Homo sapiens: one gene and its partners. The protein of the gene in region 4 interacts with the protein of the main gene of each other region in a pairwise test. Each region holds a gene or a part of one and is shown on either strand. Other genes may lie near its edges.

The links.
Region 1: the proteins of FARS2 (region 4) and PCSK5 interact in binary tests that used the Homo sapiens proteins (3 or more experiments, as listed by UniProt).
Region 2: the proteins of FARS2 (region 4) and PPP1R16B interact in binary tests that used the Homo sapiens proteins (3 or more experiments, as listed by UniProt).
Region 3: the proteins of FARS2 (region 4) and TFCP2 interact in binary tests that used the Homo sapiens proteins (3 or more experiments, as listed by UniProt).

Annotation. Positions count from the first base shown.
Region 1 is NC_000009.12:75,886,330-75,893,694, reverse strand, and holds the start of PCSK5 (proprotein convertase subtilisin/kexin type 5 isoform 3 precursor), read right to left. Parts: upstream 3,023-7,365; 5' UTR 2,514-3,022; coding exon 2,322-2,513; intron 1-2,321. UniProt on the Homo sapiens protein: Serine endoprotease that processes various proproteins by cleavage at paired basic amino acids, recognizing the RXXX[KR]R consensus motif. Likely functions in the constitutive and regulated secretory pathways.
Region 2 is NC_000020.11:38,906,696-38,913,720, reverse strand, and holds part of PPP1R16B (protein phosphatase 1 regulatory inhibitor subunit 16B isoform 1 precursor), read right to left. Parts: intron 6,743-7,025; coding exon 6,667-6,742; intron 5,916-6,666; coding exon 5,786-5,915; intron 5,694-5,785; coding exon 5,528-5,693; intron 1-5,527. UniProt on the Homo sapiens protein: Regulator of protein phosphatase 1 (PP1) that acts as a positive regulator of pulmonary endothelial cell (EC) barrier function. Involved in the regulation of the PI3K/AKT signaling pathway, angiogenesis and endothelial cell proliferation.
Region 3 is NC_000012.12:51,093,153-51,100,157, forward strand, and holds the end of TFCP2 (alpha-globin transcription factor CP2), read right to left. Parts: intron 6,628-7,005; coding exon 6,503-6,627; intron 5,767-6,502; coding exon 5,624-5,766; intron 2,889-5,623; coding exon 2,837-2,888; intron 2,127-2,836; coding exon 2,089-2,126; 3' UTR 504-2,088; downstream 1-503.
Region 4 is NC_000006.12:5,264,491-5,271,515, reverse strand, and holds part of FARS2 (phenylalanine--tRNA ligase, mitochondrial), read right to left. Parts: intron 6,527-7,025; exon of another isoform or gene 6,438-6,526; intron 4,075-6,437; exon of another isoform or gene 3,993-4,074; intron 1-3,992. UniProt on the Homo sapiens protein: Is responsible for the charging of tRNA(Phe) with phenylalanine in mitochondrial translation.

The DNA of each region.
Region 1 (7,365 bases), on a different chromosome or scaffold from region 4:
ATGAATCTTCACTATAAGGCCTTTTGTAAATAGTCAAGCAGAGGTTGCAGGACATTGCAATGTTTGCTTGTTCAAAAGTGGATTTGGTGACAATTTCTCCCATCTCGCTATGCCAGATTCTGTCATATACCAGTTCTGCTCAATTAATTCAGAAAGGTAACAGCTGTTTCTGCCCTTGTTAAAGTCAAGAAAGCTAGGTGCGTTTGAACTAAATATCTGTGAACTGAGACCAGATATTTGCTTCCAGCCTACTGAGCCATTAAATCAGAATTCAAGGAAATGGAGATTTTACTTCCTTCCTCCTTCATCATGGCATGGAAGGGTTCCCTAAAAGGCAGGATCCATGGGGGACTGGGCCTGCAACAGTCAGAGTAGCAGGTCTGAATCACTGCTTTGCCACTGTCTAGCTGGTCTCGGTTTCCTCATCTCCTGTGTGTGAGGTAATATTCACCAAACAAGGTTGTTTTGAGATTAAGAAAGAAGGGTATGTTCAAGAATTTATTCCTCCAAAAATGCCTGGTCATGTGTGAGATGTTCAATGTTAGCAGAACCCGAGATGAATCTCTGGAAAGATTAATAGTACTAGCTACTTTCAGTGCTAGCCTCCCCAGTTCCATTCCCAGGGCATAGGCAGTGCCCAACTTTAAGTTCATGTAAAAAGACCTGAACGGACTCAGTGTTTTCTTCCAGAGAAAAAGAAGCCAGTAGAATCCCAACGAGCCTTTAGAATGGAAATCTTCCGCAGATAACAGTCACTCAAGCAACAAAATCTGGCTGGCTTCCCTTACTTCCTTAGTTCCAGGGGCAGGAGGGAATACAAACCGTGCCCCTTGCCCTAGTCTCAGTTCTCCACAGGGCTGGCTTCTCTGGAATATGTCCTCCCTCTGGGCGGGCAAAGAGCAAGATCTTGTGCTCTTGCTCCTCTGAACACTCCCCGCACTCCCCAGCTCCTTCTAAACGCGGCGACAGCAGCTCTGCCTCCTCTCCAGGTGCCGCATCCCCCAGGCGGCGGGGAGGAGGGGCGGGGGGTGTCCCCGGGTTCCTGGGCGTGGAACGCAATGGCCTCAGAAACTGTCCGTACTCTCCCACTCCGCCGGCACCAGCCAGCACCTCCCTCTCCCTTCCCCCTGGCAGAGCACGCAGGGTGCGTGCACCCCGGGCAGTCCCCAAAGCGCGCCTGCTGGAAAGGCGCCATCCATCATCCTCACCTCCCATTCCAGCGGATTCTCGCCTGAGCCCAGCCAGGGCCCGCCCCTCCGGCCAACCCCAAAGATGCTTGCGGTGTGTATGTGGAGGGGGGTACTTTCTGGGACCCACTTTCATAGCCCTCTCTACCCCCATTTCTCGCAGGGGTGTCGGGGGAAGAGAACCAGAAAGCCAAGACCACTGAACCCGGAGTACTTCCAAATCTGTTACGCTTCCAATCATCCTCATAGCATCACCTTAGTTTATGGGCATTTCTCCCTAGCAGGAGAGCTCTGCCAAAAGCCCGAGAGCGGCACCCCACAAAAACCCCGCGCCCCTGCTGCCTGCCCAACTCTCGCCCCACGGCGCAACCTCCCGGCCCGGCACCTTCCGTCCCGGGGTAAGACTCCTCGTTTTCCCGGAGCGGAACCCAGCCAGCCGGTTTCGGAAGTTTCCCACCTCCCCACTACAACTCCCTTCCGGGAGCCCCCACGCGGACCTCGCTTAAGGCGAGAAAGCCTAGAGGTCTCCCCTAAATCTGCACTCACACCGGGGCCGGCCCCCTCTTCCCTCCCCCTCCTTTCTCCTCCCTTCCAGCTCCAGTCCCCGCGCCTCCGGAGTCTCCAGCGCCAGAGGTTCTCTCGCCCAAGAGGAAACTTCTTTCTGGGCTAAATTCAGGTCCGAGCAGGAAAGGCTTTCCCTTCCCCGCAGGCATCAGAGGCGCGCTCACCCCCTATCCCCCAAAAGACCTAATTTCCCCCTCTCCCCACGATCACCCTCTCTGAGACTGCCTCAGATTACTAGTGCTACTCGACTTTTCAGGTCAAAAGGTCCAGCCGTCTCTGAAGCCACCACGGGGGCACTCTGGATTTTTCCCGAGACCCTACCAGTCCCGCGTGGCTTGGAAAAGACAAGTAAACAAAACACGGACCCGGCAACTCTGGGGTGTGTGTGTGTGTGTGTGTGTGTGTGTGTGTGCGTACGCGCGCGCGCGCAGGAGACAGAGCATCGCCCAAGAGTTAGGGCAACAGCTGCTAGAGCACATCTGGAAGAGGGGGAGGGGGTTCCACGCAGAGGGGACAAGAAGCCCCCAGTGGCTTCAGGGCCGAGGGCTGGGCTAGCCTGTAGTTCGTTACCTGTCCTATGTTGATGAATCCGTACTTGCTGGCGATACGGTTGGCCTCCGGGAAGCCCCCGGCGATTTTGACTGCCCAGTGGTTGGTGTAGACGCGCGTCCGACACACGGGGAGCAGGCAGCCCCCGAGCAGCGCCAGCACGCACAGCAGGTCCAAACGTCCCGGGCAGCAGCAGCGGCTCCCCCAGCCCATGGTCCCGGCGCCTCGCTGCTCCCTCGCTCGCTGGCTGGTTCCGCGCACTAAGGGCGCGCACAACTAACTTCTCCGGCCTGCGCCGCCCGGCGAGCAGCCCCGGGCCGCCGCAGCTCGCAGCCCCGGGCGATCGGCAGGAGGCGGCTAGCCCCGGCAGGGAGCAGAGCAGCGAGCCTTACGCCGGCTCCTAGACCATCCCTGGGGCTGCCGGGACCTGTGCTCCCAGCTCTCCGGCCCGTGGGGCGCTCGGCGATGCTCCCCGGCTCGGACGCAGGAGGAGGCTGAGTGGGGCGGGCGTCCTCCGCAGTTGGGTTTCGCCCGGCTTGGCTCCCGGACTCTCCGACTCGGTCTCGCTCCTCCCGGGGCCCCCGAGCGCGGCGGAGATGACCAGCGGGAGCGGTACAGGCAGCGACCGGGCGCCCCCTCTGCTGGCCCGGGCTCCAAACGCTCGCTTGCTCGCTCCCAGCGCTCCCTCCGGCTCCGAGCAGCGCGCGAGGATTCTGAGTGGCAATGGCAGCAGCTCCTGCTCTGCATAAATGACTTCCCCCGCCCCCCTTAACACCCCTCCTTTCCCACATCGCCCTCCTCCTCTCCCTCCTCCGCCCTCTTGAAAGCGGCCGCAGCCAGGCGCTGACGAGGTCCTAGCGCCTCCGGGTTCGCCCAGCTGTAACCTCCAGGGTTCCGGGCAGTAAAGGCAAGTCTTTCCAAAGGACTGAGAAGAGCGCTCCGAGATCGTGGTTTTACTCCCTTCTCTTCCCTCCCTGCTGGATTTGTATGAATTTACCGCCACTTCCCGAAAGACTAAAGAAATTTACACGCCGGTGCGAATTAACCGCCCTGAAGATTCATTCATCCTCGTTCTAAACGTCCTTAAATAACTAGGCATTTAAGGAGGTCACTTACGTGTCAATTGCCGAACAAATAACTCGAGATTTTCACTTCGTTAATTCTTCATGCTTTTCAGCAGCTGTTTATTTTACACTTTCTGCTCCCGGGAGAAGCTACCACACAGGACAGTAAGTCGCATCGACTCCTAGAATTGGCTCGAAAGCCAAGTCTGTTGCCTGCTCACTTTCGAAATCTGCGATACTAGGCAACGCCACGGGAGAGTACAATTCCGGCCTTGGAAGTGAGGAAAGATGTTTCTATGAATATTTGGTGTGCTAGTGGATGGACATGTTGGGCCAAGGAAATAACTCCATTCATTTGTTGGATTGCGTCTGACGAGGGCTTCTTTTTCTCCACCAAGGGAAAAGTTTCCCAACTTTTCCAAGCACAGTCCTGTAACAGTGAAAGACTTTAATATGAAAAAGACCACAGAGGAAGTTCAGATGAGATATGTGGCGGCGTCACCTTCATTACTCTATCATGCACTGTGACTGCAGCAGGCAGGAGGGAGCTCAAATTAACCCTCTTCTCGCTTCTCCTTTACAACCTCCCTGCCTTCCTGGAGCGGGGGTGGGGCACAGGGTGATTTACTGTGACAAGAAAAATTATCCCGTATGAAATAATTCAACTGACTTTAAAAGTATTCACTATATCCCTAACTGTCCTCCTTTCTCTCCTCCTACCATGCCCTATTTCTTTCTTCCTGTTAATTTAAATGTGTTTGAGATTAATTAACTCATCCCACCTATAGCTTTTGGTACTGATTTTTTAAAATCTGAAAGATACCTGCAGACTTAAAATTCCACTAGTACCTTTGAGCATAGCATTTGACATTTTACATATTGTATAAGGTATGCTATATTATTTAATCTTGAAAACAAACCCACAAAATAACATCATCCCCACATTATAGCTGAAGAAATAGAAGATCAGAAGAACTAAAACATGTGCAGAAGTGTATGTATTTTATTCGTTTATTTATTTGACTGATTCAACACATCTGTTTTGAGCACCTAGCATGTGCAATGAATTGTGCTGTACACTGGAGAAAGGGGAAGGGGGAGGCACAAAAAATTAGTGGAATTCAGAATCTCTGAATACTGTAGAGTAAATGTGGTTTATTATTGAAGGTATGTATGTATGTATGTATGTATGTATGTATGTATGTATGTATGTATGTATTTTTGAGACAGAGTCTCGCTCTGTCGCCCAGGCTGGAGTGCAGTGGTGTGATCTTGGCTCACTGCAGCCTTCGCCTCCCGGATTCAAGCGATTCTCCTGCCTCAGCCTCCCCGAGTAGCTGGGATTACAGGCTGGCTAATTTTTGTATTTTTAGTAGAGACAGGGTTGGCTGGTCTCGAACTCCTGATCTCAAATGCTCTGCCTGCCTTGGCCTCGCAAAGTGCTGGGATTACAGGCATGATCCACCATGCCCGTCCTATTATTATTATTATTATTATTATTATTTATTTATTTATTTTTTTGAGACGGAGTGTCGCTCTGTTGCCCAGGCTGGAGTGCAGTGGCGCGATCTCGGCTCACCGCAAGCTCCGCCTCCCGGGTTCACGCCATTCTCCTGCCTCAGCCTCCCGAGCAGCTGGGACTACAGGCGCCCGCCACCAGGCCTGGCTAATTTTTTTGTATTTTCAGTAGAGACGGGGTTTCACTGTGTTAGCCAGGATGGTCTCGATCTCCTGACCTTGTGATCCGCCCGCCTCGGCCTCCCAAAGTTCTAGGATTACAGGCGTGAGCCACCGCTCCCGGCCCTATTATTATTATTTTTAAGAGGAAAACATAAGCACTATGCTTGTGCTTTAGAGTTTTGGTACAGTCTCCCTGCTAGCCAGTCCCTGTAGACACATCTCTTCCTGCTTCCCTAGCCATGGAGTCCGAAAGCTCACAATCTATTACAACACTGTTAACTCTGACAATCTGCATCTATGCATAGGGACATTGGATTACCCCTCTTGAAGATGGTAAATTTCAGATGGGATAAGACTTCAGTCAAGGTCCACATCTCAATACACATATAAGGGACAGTCAATCTCTCTTTTTTTTTTTTTAATTCAGAATTGTGGGCATTTCAGGTAGGAGGAAGGACCTGTCTCACCGTGATCCACAGAAGGGTTGCCACTACATAAGGTACTTTGTAACAAGTTTGAAGGATGCCGTACGGGTTTCTCTCTGGGACTCTGGAGCTGTTAATTGTTTAGGACTACAAAGGCAGCACAAAATGCTTCTCTTTCAAAGCCTTGTTGTCTCTGGGCTTCAAATTCTGAATGAAATGGAGAGGAATCACTGCACCCGGTTTTCTGGAGCCTGGAGATTTTTTTCTTGGGGTGGAAAAATTGATCATTAATATTTTTTTCTCCATGGTGTCTTTCTCTTTTTCTTTCCACTAGCACTCTTTCCTTCTGTGAGCATGCCCTGGTTGGCACACACAAATGTAACATTCACTGCATTGAACATGAGAGAAAATTGGAAAATGAGGTAGGAAGTGGGCAAACCACTTTTCTGCTTTGTAAACTAATCCCTGGGCCAGCATTTAAACTTACTCAAAGGGCATATTCTTTCATTTCAATGCATATATATTTTAAAGGGAAAAACCTAGCCCTGTTTTTTTTTTAAAAAATGAGTTGAACCCTCATTCATCTGTTAAATCAAATGTATGGATGTAGACTCATTCCTCTTACTATCCATAGCTTTTGCAGTTATATCACAGTTCCATTATAAGTCCATTCTCAAAAAGTGTGATTCTTAAACCTAAATGATATCAAAGAAGTCCCACTTCCATTGATGAATAGACATATTCTGCTTCCTCCTTTGGGATCTACTTTAACGATCTCATTAGCTTCCTTGGATAGAGCCTTGTTGGCCAAGAAGGAAGCTTGCAGATAAGCACCAATAGCAACAGCAAAGAATCTGTCATATTTCATGACCTTATGCTCTGATGGTTATGACAGTCAATTCTATTACAAATGTCTCAGTAGCCAAAGGAAGGAGGAACTGATAGACTAGTAGTGGTTGATAGAAAACCATTCCTAACATTGTAAAGAAGCAAAAATCCAAGTCTTGCATGAGTGTTTTCTTTTTGTATGCGAAGAACAGAACTGCAAGATTTGCCCCTGGACTCTTCCTCTGTAAAATGCCATATGGCAGATAACCAGGCAGTTTTCAGTTTTACGCTGCCTTATACTTTGCAACATATTACTTGATAATGAGGCCCCACTAGTGTTTGGCCTGTCTGCCAAAGTCCCTTAAATCTCTAAAAGAAAACTTCGCTGAAATGCAATGAACAGAAAGAAATCTAAGCAGTTTAATGGAAGAAGAGAAAAAGAACTCCATAAGGACCCATCTTGAAACTCTGCAAACTGAAATTATTCTGGGAAGAGTTTGCCTTATGAGACACCTTATTTCTTCCTCTGCTATATCCAATGCCAGAAATTAACCTCTAAGATCTCTTATAACCTGAGATTCTGTGAATCAATAATAAATTGGTAATGGGCTGTTTGGAGCTGACCAGTGTGAGAAAAAAAATGCCTCTGAACATTTCACTGCCAATTAGAAGAGTTACCAACTCTATGGTATGCTAGTATATCAGATTGAGAATTGGTGTGAAAGTTCCCAAAATTTAATAATGCTAATAATGATAAATTACTAGTTAACCCTTGAACAACTTGGATTTGAACTACACAGGTCCATTTATGCAGATTTTCTTCAAAAAATACATCGTACTTTTTTTGGAGATTGCCACAATTTAAAATAACTCTCAGACAAACCATGTAGCTTAGATATATTGAAAAAAATTAAGAAAAAGTGCCGGGTGTGGTGGCTTACGCCTGTAATCCCAGCACTTTGGGAGGCCTAGGCAGGCGGATCACCCGAGGTCGCGAGTTCAAGACCAGCCTGACCAACATGGAGAAACCCCCATCTCTGCTAAAAATACAAAATTAGCCGGGCATGG
Region 2 (7,025 bases), on a different chromosome or scaffold from region 4:
CCCAACCCTCAGTCCTTGCAGCCTCTGTCTTCCTCCCTAGGAAACGAACTCCTTTCTCCTTGACCTCCAAGATCTTGCCAATTCTGTGGTCGATGCATTCTACTTACTGCTGCAATCACTTCAAAAACAGTCTCTCTTTAGCTTTAAAAAACAACGACATGGCCAGGCATGGTGGCTCACGCCCGTAATCCCAGCACTTTGGGAGGTCGAGGCGGGTGGATCACAAGGTCAAGGGATTGAGACCATCCTGGCCAGCATGGTGAAACCCCGTCTCTACTAAAAATACAAAAATTAGCTGGGCATGGTGGCGTGCGCCTGTAGTTCCAGCTACTCAGGAGGCTAAGGCAGGAAAATCACTTGAACCTGGGAGGCGGAGGTTGCAGTGAGCCAAGATTGAGCCACTGCACTCCAGCCTGGCAACAGAGCAAGATTCCATCTAAAAAAAATTAAAAAAAAACACCAATGACAAACATATACAATGCTGAGGTCCCAACTCCTGAGATTCTGATTTAGTTTGTCTGTACTGCTACTTAAACATCAGATTAAAAAACAAGGGGCACAGTGGCTCATGTCTGTAATCCCAGCACTCTGGGAAGCGAAGGCAGGTGGATCACTTAAGGTCAGGAGTTCGAGACCAGCCTGGCCAACATGGGGAAACCCCATCTCTACCAAAAAACACAAAAATTAGCTGGGCATGGTGGCGGGTGCCTGTAGTCCCAGCTAATCAGGAGGCTGAGGTGGGAGAATTGCTTGAATCTGGGAGGCAGAGGCTATAGTGAACGAAGTTTGCGCCACTGCACTCCAGTCTAGCCTGGGCAACAGAGTGAGACCTTGTCTCAGAGGAAAAAAACAAAAACAAAAAACAGTGAACCAAAGTCATCCCTGAAGGCTAACAGGGCACAGCCTTGGAAGAAATGTGATTTGGGGGTCAGGCTGAACAAATTATTCCTCAAATAAGTGGTTCTGAAATTCTTGTGTGCAGCAGTATCGCCACATCTGGAGTGGGTCCTGAGAATCTACATTTATTTATTTTTATTTTTTTTTTAGAGACCACGCCTCACTCTGTCACCCAGGCTGGAGTTCAGTGGTGCTATCATAGCTCACTGCAGCATTGAATTCCTCGACTCAAGCAATCCTCCTGCCTCAGCCTCACAAGACCTAAGACTACAGGTACACACCATCACACCCACCTAATTGTTTTTTTTTTTTTTTTTTTTGGTGGGGGGTAGAGATACGGTCTTGCCATGTTGTCCAGTAACTCCTAGGCTCAGAAGATCCTCCCACCTCAGCCTCCCTCAGTTTTGGGATTACAGGATTTGTGATCCACTGTGCCCAGCCAAAGTCTGCATTTCTAACAAGTTCCCAGGTGATGCTGATGTTGCTGGTACAGGGACCATGCTTTGAGAATTCCCACCTTAACATGGTGAAACCCCATCTCTACTAAAACACAAAAATTAGCTGGGCATGGTGGCAGGTGCCTGTAATCTCAGCTACTCAGGAGGCTGAGACAGGAGAATCACTTGAACCCGGGAGGCGGAGATTGCAGTGAGCCGAGATGGCGCCATTGCACTCCAGGCTAGGCAACAAGAGCGGAACTCTGTATCAAAAAAAAAAAAAAAAAAAAGACTGACTATACCAAGGGTTGGCAAGAAACACTCTGCCATGGGAAAGCAGACAGGTACAAGGCACCTTGGAAAACTGCTTGGTAGTATCCACTAAAGCTAAACATATGCCTACCCGTGACTCCAGCTGCTTTCCTGGGTGTTTTCCCAACACAAAATAGTGCTTATGTCCACCAAAAGACATGTACAAAAATGTTTATAGGAGCTTTATTCACAGGAGCCAGAAACAAGAAACCCAAATGTCCACCAAAAGGAGAATGGAGGCCAGGAGCAGTGGCTGACCCCTGTAATACCAACACTTTGGGAGGCCGAGGAGGGTGGATCGTTTGAGGTCAGGAATTCAAGACCAGCCTGGCCAATATGGCGAAACCCCATCTCTACTAAAAATAGAAAAATTAGCCGGGCGTGGTGGCACGCACCTGTAATCCCAGCTACTCAGGAGGCTGAGGCAGGAGAATCGCTTGATCCTGGGAGGCAGAGGTTGTAGTGAGCCAAGAGCACGCCACTGCACTCTAGCTTGGGTGACAAAGCGAGACTCTGTCTCAATTTAAAAAAAAAAAAAAAGGAGCATGGATATGTAAATTTTAATATTCAAACAATCGAATTCTAGAAAGCAATAAAAAAGAATGAGGCGGCCAGGCGTGGTGGCTCACGCCTGTAATCCCAGCACTTTGGGAGACTGAGGCGGGTGGATCACGAGGTCAGGAGATCGAGACCATCCTGGCTAACACGGTGAAACCCCGTCTCTACTGAAAATACAAAAAATTAGCTGGGCGTGATGGTGGGCACCTATAGTCCCAGCTACTAGGGAGGCTGAGGCAGGAGAACGGCATGAACCCGGGAGATGGAGGTTGCAGTGAGCCGAGATCGCGCCAATGCACTCCAGCCTGGGGGACAGAGCAAGACTCCATCTCAAAAAAAAAAAAAGAAAAAGAAAAAAAAAACAAGAATGAGGCCAGGTACAGTGGCTCGTGCCTATAATCCCAGCACTTTGGGAGACTGAGGCAAGAGGATCATTTGAGCCCAGGAGTTTGAGACCAGCCTGGGCAACATAGCAAGATTCCATCTCTAAAAAATTTTGTTTTGTTTTGTTTTGTTTTGTTTTGAGACGGAGTCTCGCTCTGTCCCCAGGCTGGAGTGCAGTGGCTCGATCTTGGCTTACTGCAACCTCCACCTCCCGGGTTCAAGTGATTTTCCTGCCTCAGCCTCCTGAGTAGCTGGGACTACAGACGCGTGCCACCATGCCCAGCTAATTTTTGTATTTTTAGTAGAGATGGGGTTTCACCATGTGGCTAGGATGGTCTCGATCTCTTGACCTTGTGATCCACCCACCTCGGCCTCCCAAAGTGCTGGGATTACAGGCATGAGCCACGGCACCCAGCCAAAAATTTTTTTTAATTAGCCAGGCATGGTGGTGCATGCCTATAGTCCCAGCTACCCAAGAGGCTGAGGTGGGAGGATCGCTTGATCCCAAGAGGTCAAGGCTGCAGTGAGCTAGGATCACACCACTGCACTCCAGCCCAGGCAACAGAGTGAACTCCTGTCTCAAAAAAAAAAAACAAAAAAAAACTACTGCTATATGCCACAACGTGGGTGACTCTCACAGATGTAAAAAAAGCCAGACACGAAAGAAACTGCAGGGTCATTCATATGCATATACAAAATTAATCTTTAGAACTCAAAGTTAAATAGTGACTACATTTGGAGTGGGGGAAAGGACGGAGAGAGAACATGGATGATGAAAATGCTCTATGAATTCATCTGAGTGTGTACATTTGTAAAAGGTTGTTGAAAATCTCATTTAAGATTTGTCTACTTGGCCAGGCATGGTGGCTCACACCTGTAAGCCCAGCACTTTGGGAGGTCCAAGTGGGTAAGGATTGCTTGAGGTCAGAACTTCAACACCAGCCTGGCCAACATGGTGAAACCCCATCTCTACTAAAAATACAAAAATCCACCAGGCGTCGTGGCGGGCACTAGTAATCCCAACTACTCAGGAGGCTGAGGCAAGAGAATCGCTTGAACCCGGGAGCACAGGTTGCAGTGAGCTGAAATCACACCACTGCACTCCAGCCTGGGTAACAGAGCGAGGCTCCATATCATAAAAAAATAAAAAAATAAAAAAAGATTTGTCTGCTTTACCATACTTAAGTTACACCACAATCACAAAGGAAAAATAAATAAAGCACAGCTGGGAGACATCTGAAATGTGATTTGATACTGATCTACATCTCTTTTCTCACCAATCCTCAGACTAAGGGGCCAGGCAGAACAAATCTTCCCTACGTGCCCTCTCCATCACCAGCTGGTGGCTTTGATGTGGCCTCCCCTTGGGCAGGCACCTTCACACCTCCTGGTGAGACAGGCAGTAGGTGACCCCACTGTTCGTGCTGGGAAGCAGGGTCCCTCTGAGACACGTGGGCATGCTCGGTAGCTAATCAATTTCATCCCACCAAGGCTAAACTCTCTAGGCATGTTTTCATCTGTTCGTGGTGTAGTGGAAGAACGAAAATGGCAGACCACTTCTGGTACAGTTAACTTCTCCCTCATCCTCAGCAATTCCACTCCAGCCCCAAACTTGTTCACTCCACTCAGCAAGAAAGCAGCCATGCTGAGTGAGTGTGTTGGTTCTGGGTTAAGTAGTGTCCCTCAAAAATTCATGTCTACCTGGAATCTCTGAATGTGACTTTATCTAGAAATAGGTATTTGCAGGTGTAATAAATTAAATTAAGATTAGGTCATACTGGATTGGCATGGGCTCCAATCCAATGACTGGTGTCCTCATAAGAGGAAAAAACAGGCTAGGTACAGTGGCTCGAACCTGTAATCTCAGTACTTTGGGAAGCCAAGGTGGGAGGATTGCTTGAGGCTAAGTTTGAGGCCAGCCTGGGCAACACAGCAAGACCTCATCTCTACAAGAAATTTGAAAATTAGCCAGTCGTGATGGCCCCCGCCTATAGTCCCAGCTACTTGGGAGGCTGAGGTGGGAGGATCGCTTAAGCCCATGAGTTGGAGTCTTCAGTGATCTATAATCATGCCACTGCACTCCAGCCTGAGTGACAGAGCAAGACCCTGTCTCAAAAAAAACCAATAAAATAAAAATAAAAAAAGAAAACAGACACACACACACGAAGAAAAAGGTCATGTGGAGATAGAAGCAGAGACTAGAATCATTGCTAGCAAGAGCCAAAGAACGCCTGAGCCACCAGAAGCTCGCAGAGGCGTGGAACAGAATCCCCTTGAGAGCCCCCAGAGGGAACCAATGCTGGTGTTACCTGGATTTTAGACTTCTGGCCTTCAGAACTGAGAGAGAATAAATTTCCACCATGTTAAGCCATCCAGTTTGTGATAATTTCTTAAAGCAGCCATCAGAAATGAAAGCAGCTTAAAGCTTAAAGGACCATTGGCTGCTACAGGAGCAGGCTTCTCAGAGGTCCTACTAGGATCCTACTCCATTTTTCAAAAAACATGTTCTGATAAACACAATTCTCAATATCTTGTTATATTTCCTGAAAAAGAAGTTGTAGCACCCTCAGCTCCTGGGTGACTGCCCTACTGAAGCTCTCTCCTTGGAAGTCCACTGCTAGGTGTGCTGGAGCACAGCTAGGCGCATAGCGGACACTCACCCCCTGTCAATTAGGAGACCTACCTGTGTGCCAAAGCACCCAGCTCAGCCTCTAACACACTCCCCGATCACCTCCTTAACTACAGCAGCCACCACCATCAGACTGAATCTGCTGGTTTAACTACAGTAGCCATCATCATCAGACTGGATATGCTAGTTTAAGGGCAGTGCCTGGCTACTTCCCTCTGAAGGCTCTCAGTTGAAGAGGCAAGGCCAGGCTGGGCCCTGTTCTCCTCCCATTGCAGTGGCTGACACTAGGGCAGGGCGTGAGGCCACTCACAGGGTCCTTATTCTCTTGGTCTGTCCTGGTCTCCCTGATGTCCCCGTTGTAGGTGGAGGTCCGCTGATCCTCAGCTGCACTCCGCTGCCACAGGATGGCCTCTCCCTCATACTCCTTCCTATACAGGTTGGTCCTGTCCGACAGGCTGGCTCGCCGCACCACCTTCCTGAGAGGACAAAGTGGGTCCTAGAGGCTGCACCCAGGCACCACAGGCAGGAGCACACACAGGGACTCCTGGCTGCCCTGCCCCGGACTCACCCACGGCTGCCTGCGCTGGAGGTCCTCCGGCTCAAGGATGACTTGTGCCTCAGCTGTGACTTCATGATCACATCATGCTTGTGTTTTAGCTCCAGCAGCAGGACCTTGAACTCTTCCTCCTCGCACAGGTCTGAAGGGGCAGAGGAGTCTGTTGTGGGGGACGGGGCCAGGACCTGTGGCGCAAGAGGGTGCTCCAGACCAGAGGAGCTGCCACCCCAACCCACTGAAAACTCCAAGCATCTTTCAGGGCATGCAGGGAGGCAAGAAAACAATGCCAGCCAAAGTTGAGTGAGTGTGTTTATAAGAGGATTATAAGAATGGGAAACCCAGGTTCTGGGCACAGTCACAATTCCTAAGCTTCCCAGCTATGACCGAGGGATTCATGTTGCTCTTTGATAGTTTCCAAGAAGAGTCCCCAAGCAGGTACCCCACATAGCCCAAGCAATAAATTATGCAAAGATGCTAATAAAGCTACATACTCCCATCTATTCTACCTAACCCCTTCATCCATCTATCTACCTATTGCTGACTGAGCCATGTATTCATAGATTCATCCTTTACCCACTCATCCACTTATTTTTCTGTCTATCCATCCATCCATCCATCCATCCATCCATCCATCCACCCACCCACCCATCCATTCAACCAGACCTCATAATATCTACCCATCTACCACCTCAACCATCCATTCATCCATTTATCCATCTATCCATTAATCTGTCCATCCGTCCATTCATCTACCATCCATTAATTAATCCATCTATCTATCTAGACACCAATCCATCAATCTATACAACCATATATTTATCTATTTCTCCCTCTACCCATCAAAACATTGATAACTGCCTATTTGTGCACACCAGCTATTGTGCTGGACTTACCTATTGGCATCTCATCCATGGATGTCCTTGCACTGAGACTAGCTCCATGGGACACCAATAGCTCTGCCATCTGCATCTGAAACACAGGAAGAAGCTCATGTGTCCCCCTGCCCAGAGCTCAGAAAGCCTAGGAGGTGGAGAGAGTGCCCAAGGCCTCTTAGGATGTGACCCAAAGAATGGTGGGACAAAGTTGATTTCCAGGGAAGGCCTGCAAACTAGAGCCATGGGGGGAATCCAGACAGATGCAATGAGCTTAGCACCTCCTCCACATGCCTGGGCCACACCAAGAAGAAGGAGAAGAAAGAGTTGGCTGTAACTCTAGAGCTGGCAGGTATCTAAGGAGGGACTAGGTGTAAGTG
Region 3 (7,005 bases), on a different chromosome or scaffold from region 4:
AGACAGTCTTGCTCTGTCACCCAGCCTGGAGTGCAGCAGCCTGATCTCAACTCATTGCAACCCCACCTCCCAGGTTTAAGCAATTCTCATGTCTTAGACTCCCAAGTAGCTGGGATTACAGGTGTGTGCCACCACGCCCAGCTAATTTTGTATTTTTAGTAGAGACAGGGTTTCACCATGTTGGCCAGGCTGGTCTTAATCTCCAGGCCTCAAGTGATCTGCTTGCCTCAGCCTCCCAAATTGTTGGGATTACAGGCATAAGCCACGGTGCCCAGACTCATTTCTATATTAAAAAAAAAAAAAAAGAAAAAGGCATCTAGTCCAACTTTCCTACCCAAACACCTAGACATAAAAAAAAAAAAAAAAAAAAAAAAAAAAATCCAAACCAATAGCAGCCTGCTGAGGAAAGAACTGAGGTTGAGAACCAGTACTAGGAATATAAGACAACCAGATACGTCTCCTCCTCAAAATGGAGACACCTGGTAATCATTCACTAAGAAGCATTTTGGTGTAATATAACAAGTTGCTCAGGTCAGTTTTAAACAAGTCATTGACTTAATTTTTTGGTTTCAAAGTTTTCAATTTGTTTCAAACCAAGAGAAATTAGACCATGATGCAGATTGAGTTTAATGAACAAAAATCTCTGTATAAAAAACATTTAAACCTTATCAAATGCTTTAAACACACACACACACACACACACACACAAATCCAAATCCAATACACAATCTTAGAACATTATCTTTGTGTACCTCAACATAACCTGTAAAAGTATTTCTAGATAAAACTTTACAAGTGAAGAAAGAAAACCCATGATGTTACACTTACACACTTACACACACACACACACACACACACAATCATTCTTAAGGAAGAACAAAAACATGGTAAGAGTGTGAACAGGAAGGGAATGCATCTTTTTTTGTAAAGCTTCTATTAAAAAACATAGCATGAGTAAAATAACTTCCTATGCCAAGAGAAGATGCAGAGAGAGGAAACAGAAAGCAGGGATGAGACTAACTCATTAATAAATAGTTTGAGAATGTCATTCAAGAACAGTAAATTTGGGGAGTTACAGATAATCCCCAGTTGTCACCACCTCAAATTCTTTGATTCCGATAACTAATGACACTTAAAAAGCATCTATGTGTTCATTTCTTGTAGGTCTTGATTTGTTCATCATTATTTAGGTGTGCTTTGTCTCTTTCAGTGGTTAATTCCTCAGTTCATACTCAGTGTTATGTTGTAGTCACCAGAAGGGCCACAGTAATAAGCGAAGTGAACACAGGTTATAATGGGTAGCACTGGTGGTATGAGAGGGTGAATAAGGAGGGCCAGATTGCCTGGTTTGGATTTCAGCATCACTGCCTGCCAGCTCCTGGCACCTAGCAAGCTACTTAGCCACTGTGTGTCTCCATTTCCTCATCTTCGGTTGGGGGTCACTATAGCACCTACTTCAGATAGTGTGATTAGGGGGTTAAACAAGATGGTCATTCAAAAAATTTATCACACTGCCTGGTCAATAAATGTTAGCTGAAAATACTATTAGTTGTGGTATTACAGGGGAACCAAAAGGAAAATTCTGTATTTCTCCTCACTGATAAAGTTTTCAGGGACAAACTGTGGCAAAAAGCAGAGATACCAGTACATTTGAGACCAGTACAAAGAGATTGAAGACCTAGTCTTATGAATATAGATACCCATTTTTATATAAGAAAAAAATTACAGGGCTCCATATCACAAAATTTAAGATCTTCCTGTTAAACATCACACAATTCCCATCATCATTATGCCCTACATACACTCTAAATTATGTAGAGTTTCTACTGATATTTAACAACAACAAGGTCCAGAAATTTAACTAAAACAGCTGCAGAACTGCATATTGGGCAGTAATCTGTGTGTACCACAAGAGCTTGGGCCAACACAGAGGGCCAGGATTCTGCCTCCATGGCCTGGACTCCTCCACACACAGTCAGACGAGTCAGGTTCTTGCAGACCTTCAAATCTCCATTCATATCCCCCTTCAAGAGGGCCGTTTTCAGAGGTGAAGGAAGGAGCAGCCACTGGGCACGAAACGCCGCACTCCTACTTCAGTATGATATGATAGCTATCATTGGTTTCTGCTGTTAAAAAAAAGAGAGAGAGAGAATCATCTTTAGTCACCTCTAAAACACAGCAGGAGAAAAAAAGTATGGTAAGATTCTCGTGAGAAGGGGAGAAAAGGGAGGTGGAGGTTGCAGTGAGCTGAGATCACGCCACTGGACTCCAGCTTGGGCAACAAGAGCGAAATTCTGTCTCAAAAAAAATGCATTATAAAAACAACATGCCTCAATTTCCTCATCTGTAATGGAAGATGGAAGAGAATGGCAAAAAGCTGGGCCAGGCACAGTGGCTCATGTCTGTAATCCCAGCACTTTGGGAGGCCAAGGTGGGTGGATCGCTTGAGGTCAGGAGTTCGAGACCAGCCTGGCCAACAAGGTGAAACCCATCTCTACTAAAAATACAAAAATTAGCCAGACATGGTGGCACGTGCCTGTAATCCCAGCTACTTGGGAGGCAGAGGGAGGAGAATCACTTGAACTTGGGAAGCGAAGGTTGTAGTGAGCCGAGATCATGCCACTGCACTCCAGCCTGGGCAACAGATCGAGACTCTGTTTCAAAAAAAAAAAAAAAAAAAAAAGCCAACTTAAAAAAAGGAACAATCTCTAATATTGTCACTTTCTTTACCCAAATATGGTTACTTTTCCTATCTCTCCTCAAAGAAGTATGTACTTTGCCTAGTAGTAGTAAAGCTGTTAAACTGCTTAGAGAAAGATGTTTGTCTTACTATTACCTTTCATTGTGTCCAGAATAAAACATGCTTCTTCCTGAAAGTTCTGTATCATCTGAAAAATGCAAGAAAATTTGTGATTATTTAAATGAAAAACAACCCCTTTATATTCCTGTGTCCCTAAGGACTACCCCACATCCAGAGGGATTTATATGGGAGGCTTTACAGGTCACAAATAATGTATTTCTTGAATATCTAGGATCATAAAAGTTTTTTCCTCCCCTCCCATTTGGTTTTTAAATATTAAAAAACTAAGCAGATTGGAAGAGTTGTTTTAAAGCCTGGTATGCATTTCCCTGGGTTAACCCCAAGACTCTCCAAGGAGCACACGGACACAAATATGTGCATACAGGAGAACTGACTTCCGTGTCTTCAACTCCCATATGTGCTCTTTCCTAAAACCTCTTTAATTTTCCTTCCCCACTTTCCCTTCTCAAACTCCCTTCTCCCAGGGATAAACTCCCTTCTCCCAAGATAAAGGCATGAGTTTCACCCTCCCAGGATCCTAATAAGGTGGCCCATGATGTGAAAGCTTCAGGTGGCAAAGTGGAATGGCGAAGGTGAACGCTAATAACTGAGCAATAGACCCTTTTATGAGCCACATGGTTTCTAACTCTTTCCTTTCACCAGAATTAAAGAGTAACCTAATCACAAATTGTCGTAAGACAGAGGATTCAAAATGATTTTTTGGTAATATCACTATGTAATTTCTGGTATATAATTCTGAAGTATAATCTAATGACATTGTCATTACAAAATTCCATCCATTCCTATCAATTTATGGGAATCAAGTCCCTCAGCATTTATATCTAGAGGAAAAAAACAGAATGGAATTGATGCTGAAATCCTGTGTCATTCTAGCAATCAATAGGCAGTATTCAGCTACAAAGGAAATAATTATGTGCAAGGGTACAGGTAGGGAACGAAACAATTTCATCGAACTCATTCATAGATATACCTGTAATAATTTTTTCTTAATTTTTTTTTTTTTTTCTGAGACAGAGTTTTGCTCTTGTTGCCCAGGCTGGAGCGCAATGCCCCCATCTCGGCTCACGCAACCTCCGCCTCCTGGGTTCAAGGGATTCTCCTGCCTCAGCCTCCTGAGTAGGTGGGATTATAGGCACGTGCCACCACACCCGGCTAATTTTGTATTTTAGTAGAGACAGGGTTTCTCTATGTTGGTCAAACTCCTGACCTCAGGTGATCTGCTTGCCTCGGCCTCCCAAAGTGCTGGGATTACAGGTGTGAGCCACTGTGCCTGGCCTTCTTTTTTTCTTTTTTTGGATGAAGTCTCGCTCTGTCGCCTAGGCTGGAGTGCGGTGGCGCAATCTTGGCTCACCGCAACCTCTGCCTCTCGGGTTCAAGCAGTTCTCTGCCTCAGCCTCCCAAGTAGCTGGGATTATAGGCACCTGCCATCATGCCCAGCTAATTTTTGTATTTTTAGTAGAGATGGGGTTTCACCATCTTGGACACGATGGTCTTGAACTTCTGACCTTGTGATCCACCCGTCTCAGCCTCCCAAAGTGCTGGGTTTACAGGCATGAGCCATTGCGCCTGGGCAGCCTTCTTAATCTTTAATAATTACTTATTAAAACATGTAGCATATTTACATTATTTTAATCAATTGTATAATTATGATAATTCCATTATAATAATTTTTAAATTTTTATTTAAAAACTTTATTTCAAACAAATATAGTAGGATAATCAATAAAAGATGTTTGTGCATAAAAATATGTTATGGTAAGATGGCCAGGCGTGGTGGTTCACATCTGTAATCCCAGCACTTCGGGAGGCTGAGGCGGGTTGATCACTTGAGGCCAGGAGTTCGAGACCAGACTGGCCACATGGTGAAACCCAGCCTCTACTAAAAATACAAAAATTAGCCAGGCATGGTGGTGGGTGCCTGTAATACCAGCTACTTGGGAGGCTGAGGCAGGAGAATTGCTTGAACCTAGGAGGCGGGGTTGCAGTGAGCCGAGATCACACCACCGCACAACAGCCTGGGCGACAGAGTGAGACTCTGTCTCAAAAAAAAAAAGTTACAGTAAGATAAAATTCACCGGGGGAAGTAAATGAAAATAAGAGTTCAAGGAAACAGAGGAATAGTATAAGAATTCTAACTGTTAAAGAAAAGCACAATCATGTATTTTTTTTTAATGGATGGTGGTGGTATTAAATCATTTTTGTATTAAGGTTACATGGGATGCAATTAGAATAATGATGTAACCATTTCACTTAAAAATGTCATTATATATGCCCAGAAATGACATCTTTTACAACTATTTAAACTTTAACAAAAAATTTTAAGTCAACCTAAAAATGTGCATGGGAATATGTGGTTTTTAAAATATTTTAGGACCAGGCGCAGTGGCTCACATCTGGAATCCCACCACTTTGGGAGGCCGAGGCGGGTGGATCACTTGAGGCCAGGAGTTTGAGACCAACCTGGCCAACATGGCAAAACCCCATCTCTACTAAAAATACAAAAATTAGCCAGGCGTGGTGGCGCACGCCTGTAATTCCCACTATTCGGGAAGCTGAGACAGGAGAATCACTTGAATCCAGGAGGAGGAGGTCGCAGTGACCTGAGATTGGGCCACTGCACTCCGGCCTGGGCAACAGAGAGAGACTGTTTCAAAAAAAAAAAAAATTAGGAGGAAAGCAAGCAAAAAAGTATGAAACCCTCTGATCTAGAAAACAGAACACTCTGCCCCAGGAGAACTGCTCTTGCTCCATGCGCTGACAAATTAATCATCATCTGGTAATTCAACTGTACTGAAAAATCTACCTCATCACTGATGAGCACATGAATTCCTGTTGGCCCCTGCTTGTAAATCTGGCTGATCTGGCAAGGGGAAATGCTGAAAAGCTGAGCAATTTTTTCTGTCAATTCAACAGCTGTTAGTTCTTCTAGATAGATAGCATGGTAAACTGCAAAAGGGAGAGAGCAACAGCAGTCAGTACAAAGTTTGTCCACTCTTACAGGTAACTTGATCACTAGGAATGCCCACTTTTCTGAAGGACTCAGAAATCACACTGCCTAAGTTCAAATCCTGGCTCAACCACTTGCAGCTGTGTGACCTAGGGCAAGTTATTTAACATTCCTAGGCCTGATTTTTCTTGCATAAATACCGGAGATAACAGTAAAATCCTCCGCAAAGAGGAGATATTAGTTGTAAATATTAAAGCATATAAAAAGTGTTAAGAATAGTACCTGGCTGGGTGTAGTGGTTTACACCTATAGTCCCAGCAATTTGGGAGGCTGAGGCAGGGAGATCGCTTGAGCCCAGGAGTTCAAGACCAGCCTGGGCAACATAGGGAGATCCCATCTCTACAATAAATAAAACAATTAGGCAAATGAGTAGCTTTAGTTCTAGCTACTCGGTAGGCTGAGGGGAGAGAATCACTTGAGCCCAGGTGGTCAAGGCTGCAATGAGTCATGATTGTGCCACTGTACTTCAGCCTGGGTAACTGAGTGAGACTCTGTCTCAAAAAAAAAAAAAAAGAATGGCACCTGCCATGTATTAGGAACTTAATAAATGCTAGTGATTATTGTTACTTCTAGCAAATACTAAATCTGCTGTTTGATAGTTTCCCATCACACATGCCCATAAGTTATCTCTTCACCTTTCTTCATATCTGTCCTAGTGTGTCCAGAACAACCTACCGAAGAAAGTACCATTTGAGTCTCCATCCTCATGCTTCTGCTGCTGTTGCTGCTGCTGTTGTTGCTGCTCCCTCAACTGCAGTGATTCCTGACAAACATAAATGGTTAACCTTGGACGCACCATCCTAAGGGGAGGAAAAAGGCTAATTAGTCTTACATTCTTTATGGTAAGCACAATAAAAAGAAGGGAGAAATTGTGTTTCTACATTAATCGTATAGAGCAGATGAAAATTGGAAGCTCATTGGCCAAATGCAATTAATTTGCTATGTTTTATTAGTTCCCCAGTAGTAGGGTTTTTTTTTTCCTTAAGTGGAATTAGTTCCAATATGAGACATCATATAAACCTCTGAACTTTTGGCTTTTCCTGAAGACTCAGATCTAGCAATCTTAGGCCTGCATTCTCACATGAAAACAATCAGCCGTTCTTCTTACATGATGCATATATTCTTCACTATACCCCAGTCTTGACTGCCATTCACTTACATTACCTGTATGTACTCTA
Region 4 (7,025 bases):
ATTAATCAAATAAAAAAATATAACTCTGGCAAGATTGCTCTAGTGAACTTTGTTCCTTTTACAAAAAATAATTCCCCTTTATCTCTAGGAGCTAGGCAACTGGTTCAAGACCAAAAGAATCCTATCTTCTCCCTGGTCACAGTTATTGGTTCAGAAATGGATGAGGACATGACACAAGGAGGGCCAGTGACATGAACGGAGAGGACTGCTGAGCACTCTTGGTCCAGAAGCTCTCTCACTCCTCTAAGGTTTTGGAAACAAGCGCCCCCAAACTGTTGATGGTTTCCCATAACCGAGAGAGAGGACTCTGGCCAGACGATAAAATTTACGTTAGAGAAGACAAAGTAGAGAAAAGCACAAAATTGAATCTTTGGCAACATCACTCAAACCAATCAACCCTAAAGCCCATCTGGCTTCTGAACCCTCAAGACACAGGAGACAATAAAGCCACTAGGTTTGTTTAAAACAATTTGACTTCAGTTACTTGCAATGGCAGTCACTCTAAGCTGAAGAGCAATTCACCATACTAAGGGAGCTTAACAGAGGAAGATGTACTCAAGTTAGAGAAGGTAGCTTTGAGTAAGCATCTCTTAAACTGAGATCAGAAGAATAATTAGCAAGGGAAGGAAGGGCACTCCAGGCAGCTGGATCAGCATTTGCAAAGGTCCCCAGGGTAGAGGGGAAAGAGGTGAGTACTAAAGAATGAAAAGCAGCAAGCGAAAAATAAAAAGGTATGACATGGGACTGGAGAAGTGGGTAAGCGCCATAGTCGTCAGGGTCTCATAGGCTGTGTTAAGGAATTAGACTTCATCCTAAAAGTGCTGCAGGTTTTTGGAGAGAAGGTGATATAAAAATTACTGTCTATAGTGTGGTGACATTAATTCATATATATCTAAGGAACATACCTGACCACCAGTACTATAATGAACATTTCATTTTCAAATAGCTTTCAAGACAACAGAAAAATTTCAGCAAACACTGTAACTTGACACACGTGGAATCTCTTCTACAAAGTTAACAGAAGGGCATCCAGACAGCTTGACAGCTCTAGCGAACCACACTTATGTCCTGAAACGTATTAATCTGGGATAGTTTACTTGGAAATTATTTGAAGACCTGGGCTCTACAAATGAAAGCTGACTGTAATTATCATCCAGCCCAGCTCTCACAGTACGCAGAAGCCAAGGGTGTAAGTGGGATTCCTAACAGGGCTTAATGTTATGAATGCCCAGGCACATGTGCTTGTCTCAAAGTGCTCCAAGACTTGAAATAAATAACAATGTGCTTATCTCAGAACGTCAAGAAACAGGAAAGAAAGTATGCTGCCTGCTAAGCTTTTTCTATTTCATGACTGCTTCATTTTACTTTCCCTTTGCACTGCAGAATTCCAGGAATTGATTTAAAAAAAGATAATTCTCCCAAAAAACTCATCTTCATTAACTGAAACTAACTGTTTTACTCTCTGCCAATATTACTGTAATCCATTTCACAGAAGCCAGGCTTTTATAACTCTTAAATATTGTTAGTTAACTCAAACTCACAATTACACATACAGATTACAAGTTTGCCAGGCTGAAGTGCTTCAATTGTGCTCAGAAAATAAATGTTTACATTAAAACGTTATAAAATATTAAATCATGTAATTCACTATAATACCAAAGAAATCATGAATTCTCTGTATATCTTCTATTGTTAATAACAGTCTACAGTATACTATCAACGATATGTATCGACCCATCCTCTGAGAGATCAGTTAACATCACAGATCTCAGTATTGCACATCTTAAGACACTGACCTAGTATTTTTCCAGTGATTAGCAAAATGTAGGCTGTTTTTTGTAAACAGACTCAACACTGCAAATTCTAAATGTTTTCTGTAAACAACCTACTGACCTGAACAAACAAGAGATGGCGGCTAATACACTCATTCGAAGAAGTCAATCAGAACTTCAAATATGTCACTAGAAAAATTACTAAAATGAGATACTGCTAAACAGCAATGAAAGGACTCTTCTTTTCTCTTTTTTTTTTTTTGGTTATTTTCATTTTTTTTTTTATTATACTTTAAGTTCTAGGGTACATGTGCACAAGGTGCAGGTTTGTTACATATGTACACATGTGCCATGCTGGCATTAGGTATATCTCCTAATGCTATCCCTCCCCCCTCCCCCAACCCCACCACAGGCCCCGGTGTGCGATGTTCCCCATCCTGTGTCCAAGTGTTCTCGTTGTTCAATTCCCACCTATGAGTGAGAACATGCGGTGTTTGGTTTTCTGTCCTTGCGATAGTTTGCTCAGAATGATGGTTTCCAGCTTCATCCATGTCCCTACAAAGGGCATGAACTCATCCGTTTTTATGGCTGCATAGTATTCCATGGTGTATATGTGCCACATTTTCTTAATCCAGTCTATCATTGATGGACATTTGGGTTGGTTCCAAGTCTTTGCTATTGTGAACAGTGCTGCAATAAACACATGTGTGCATGTGTCTTTACAGAGCATAATTTATAATCCTTTGGGTATATACCCAGTAATGAGATTGCCGGGTGAAATGGTATTTCTAGTTCTAATACCTAGGAATCCAACCTACAAGGGATGTGAAGGACCTCTTCAAGGAGAACTACAAACCACTGCTCAATGAAATAAAAGAGGACACAAACAAATGGAAGAACATTCCATGCTCATGGATAGGAAGAATCAATATCGTGAAAATGGCCATACTGCCCAAGGTAATTTATAGATTCAGTGCCATCCCCATCAAGCTACCAATGACTTTCTTCACAGAATTGGAAAAAACTACTTTAAAGTTCATATGACCCAAAAAAGAGCCCGCATTGCCAAGTCAATCCTAAGCAAAAAGAACAAAGCTAGAGGCATCACGCTACCTGACTTCAAACTATACTACCAGGCTACAATAACCAAAACAGCATGGTACTGTTACCAAAACAGAGATATAGATCAACGGAACAGAACAGAGCCCTCAGAAATAATACCACACATCTACAACCATCTGATCTTTAACAAACCTGACAAAAATAAGAAATGGGGAAAGGATTCCCTATTTAATAAATGGTGCTGGGAAAACTGGCTAGCCATATGTAGAAGCTGAAACTGGATCCCTTCCTTACACCTTATACAAAAATTAATGTGAGATGGATTAAAGACTTAAATGTTAGACCTAAAACCATAAAAACCCTAGAAGAAAACCTAGGCAATACCATTCAGGACATAGGCATGGGCAAGGACTTCGTGTCTAAAACACCAAAAGCAATGGCAACAAAAGCCAAAATTGACAAATGGGATCTAATTAAACTAAAGAGCTTCTGCACAGCAAAAGAAACTACCATCAGAGTGAACAGGCAACCTACAGAATGGGAGAAAATTTTTGCAATCTATCCATCTGACAAAGGGCTAATATCCAGAATCTACAAAGAACTTAAACAAATTTACAAGAAAAAAATCAAACAACCCCATCAAAAAGTGGGCGAAGGATATGAACAGACACTTCTCAAAAGAAGACATTTATGCAGCCAAAAAACACATGAAAAAATGCTCATCATCACTGGCCATCAGAGAAATGCAAATCAAAACCACAATGAGATACCATCTCACACCAGTTAGAATGGCGATCATTAAAAAGTCAGGAAACAAAAGGTGCTGGAGAGGATGTGGAGAAACAGGAATACTTTTACACTGTTGGTGGGAGTGTAAACTAGTTCAACCATTGTGGAAGACAGTGTGGCGATTTTTTTTTTTTTTTTTTTGAGACAGTCTCGCTGTGTCTCCCAAGCTGGAGTGCAGTGGTGCGATCTCAGCTCACTACAAGCTCCACCTCCCAACTTCATGCCATTCTCCTGCCTCAGCCTCTCGAGTAGCTGGGACTACAGGCACCCACCACCACATCCGGCTAATTTTTTTTGTATTTTTTTAGTAGAGACGGGTTTTCACTGTGTTAGCCAGGATGGTCTCCATCTCCTGACCTCGTGATTCACCTGCCTGGGCCTCCCAAAGTGCTGGGATTACAGGTGTGAGCCACCACGCCTGGCCTGGACTGTTCTTTTCATGGCAAAGCTCCTAGAAGAGAGAAAACAAACTCTAAATAAATAATAGCTATCATTACAATAAGCTGTAGCTAGTTTGATTAACAAATCATCCTAAAATATCCAGACAATATGAAAACATTATTCCTAAAATACTGGTCCCTCATATGCAGCAAGAAAGAAAGAATGAAAGTGATCTATAACAGATTACAACAAATCACACTGTAAAAGAATTCTCATGGTGGTCGGGGTTTGTAGCATGAAAAGATGGTTTCTTTCCTTTACAATGAAAAGAATTAATGAGTTTTTTTTTTTTAAGAAAAAAAACCTCTAGAAATAACTGACATTTGAAATACTTTACACAAAATAAATTGTCAATTTTGTTGTTACTGCCCACAAATACGGGAACCCTTAGCCTCCAATCAATGAAGCTAGAGTGTCTAGTTGCAACATATCATAGCTTTCAAGATTTCTCAAAACAGAGAACAGATTTTCATAAGTATATCTGAAAAAAGCTTCTACAGAAATGTGAGTCTCAGAGAATCCCCCAAGAGGAAATGTCTCACATACACACATAAATAGACAACCTAAAAAAGCACTACGTCTTTTCAAAGAGATGTTAATAGAATAAAATGTAAATTTATCTTAAATAACTAAAAAGCTAGTATAAAATCAACATTTGAGATTCCCAGAATATTTATAATATTTCCAATACAAACCGGTTAGCTTTACAAATAAGTGAGAATCCAACTAAATTAAAATTCAAATATGACTGAAATGTACCCATGTTATCCAAGAAAAATCAATAACCTTCCAATTCCTGAAGCTGGTACTTTATCTGTGAAGCAGTGTTGTATCATAGCTAGACAGATCACATCTCAGGCCAAGGTCCACACTAGCTACTTTCCAGCTGTGTGACCCTGGCTAAATAAACTCTCAGCTTCATTTTTTTTTCTTTTTTTTATTCTATTTTATTGAGATGGGGTCTCGCTATGTTACCCAGGCTGGCCTCAAACTCCCAAGCTCAAGTGATCCTCCTGCCTCAGCCTCCCACAGTGCTGGGATTACAGATGTGAGCCACCACACCTGGGCAGCTTCACTTTTCTTAAATGGAGATAACAGCTCTTCCATCAGGTCATGGGAAGACTAACTCAAATCATATCAGGATTCAGCTCATCTCATGCCTAAAACATATGAAAGCCGATGTATTACCTTTTCACGGGATCTCCCCGTTCTCACCCTCATGCACTCTACAGCTCTGGCCAAAGCCTTCCGCAGGTCATGATTGTTTTTTCTTAGACCTCAATCAGGGTTTCTCCTTCATCCTTTCAAGGTAAAGGGTGAGTCATCTTCCACCTACAGTAGCCATCTTACCACCACATTCAAACATTTAAATCCTTCAATTCCTTTCAAGGCCCAGGAGAAACTTAAATCCTCTCAAGCCCAACACAAACACTACCTCCTCCATGAAGCCCCCTAATTCCTTCAGGTCAATGTTTCTCAGCCCTGGCTCTACCCAATCATGGAGAGAATTTTAAAAAAAAATTAAACAAAATTATCTGAAGCCTGGGCCTTAGCACTGCTGTTGGTCTGAGGTGTGGCCCAAGCATCAGGGATGAAGTGACCTCTCCTTGCACTGAGACCCCACAACGCTTCAGCAGCCCTTTGTACAGGATGGTAGAAAAGTTATTGCTGTTTTCACCCTTAAAAGTAACGGTCAAAACTGCAGCTACTTTCACCAACCTAATACCTTATTTTAATCATATACAAATGCATTTAAAGTATAAACTTCTGGAAAACAGGATCAGTGTTTGATTTATATATCGCCCTCAAGTTACCACAACAACAGTAACTTAAATTGCTAGGCTGCCAGCTATCTCTTGAATGCACAGGTAAATAAATAACATTTCAGTGCCTCTGGAATATAGGATTCAAAGTCATGATTTGAAACAAAAGGTTATCAGTACCTGAATAAATAATCTCCATTTCAACAGCTCAGCTGTTAAGTTCTACTTATATAACTCAGCCAATGCATAAGGGAAGAAATGATTTATTCCAGACAGAGAGAAAACATCACTAAAATAAAGCTAGTACAGGGCTAAACACTTCAGTGGTCCCTCCCTTCCCACCTCCTACCATTCTAAAACACTTAAGAGTTCTCTAAATAGATCAAGCACCCTTCTTCCTCCATGCTTGGATATACACTGCAATCTTTAACCACATTCCTCATCTGGCTTTTACTTCTCATTCTGGAAACACCTTCTACGATGGAAAGCCTTCCCATAGGTGAAACTCCTGGTTCAATATTCCTCTTCCCTATTCCTTTAGCGTTTACTAATATTACTCATATCGCAGCAACTGTCAAAAAGAAATTATTGGCCAAGTGCCACGACTCACAGCTATAATCTGAGCTCTTTGGGAAGCCAAGACAGGAGAGGCACTGAGGAGTTTGAGACCACCCTGGACATCATAGTGAAATCTCATCTCTACAAAAAAAAAAAAAAACACTTAAAAATCTGCCAGGCATGGTGGCATGAGCCTATAGGCCTAGCTACTCAGGAGGCTGAGGCAGGAAAATCACTTCAGCACGGGAGTTTGAAGTTACAACGAGATATGATAGCACTACTGCACTCCAGCTTAGTAAACAGAGACCCTGTCTCTATAAAATAAATTATTGTTTCGCTTATCTAGTCACCTACAAGTTTCTTAGGGGTGGGGAAGCTCTCATCACTGTGACTATATCATCTTATATAATATATGGTACTTATGGGCCGGGCGCGGTGGCTCACGCCTGTAATCCCCACACTTTGGGAGGCCAAGGCAGCTGGATCACCTGAGGTCAGGAGTTCAAGAAAAGCCTGGACAACATGGTGAAACTCCATCTCTACTAAAAATACAAAAAATTAGCCGGACGAGATTGCACCATTGCACTCCAGCCTGAGAAACAAGAGTGAAACTCTGTCTCAAAAAAAAAAAAAAAGAAAA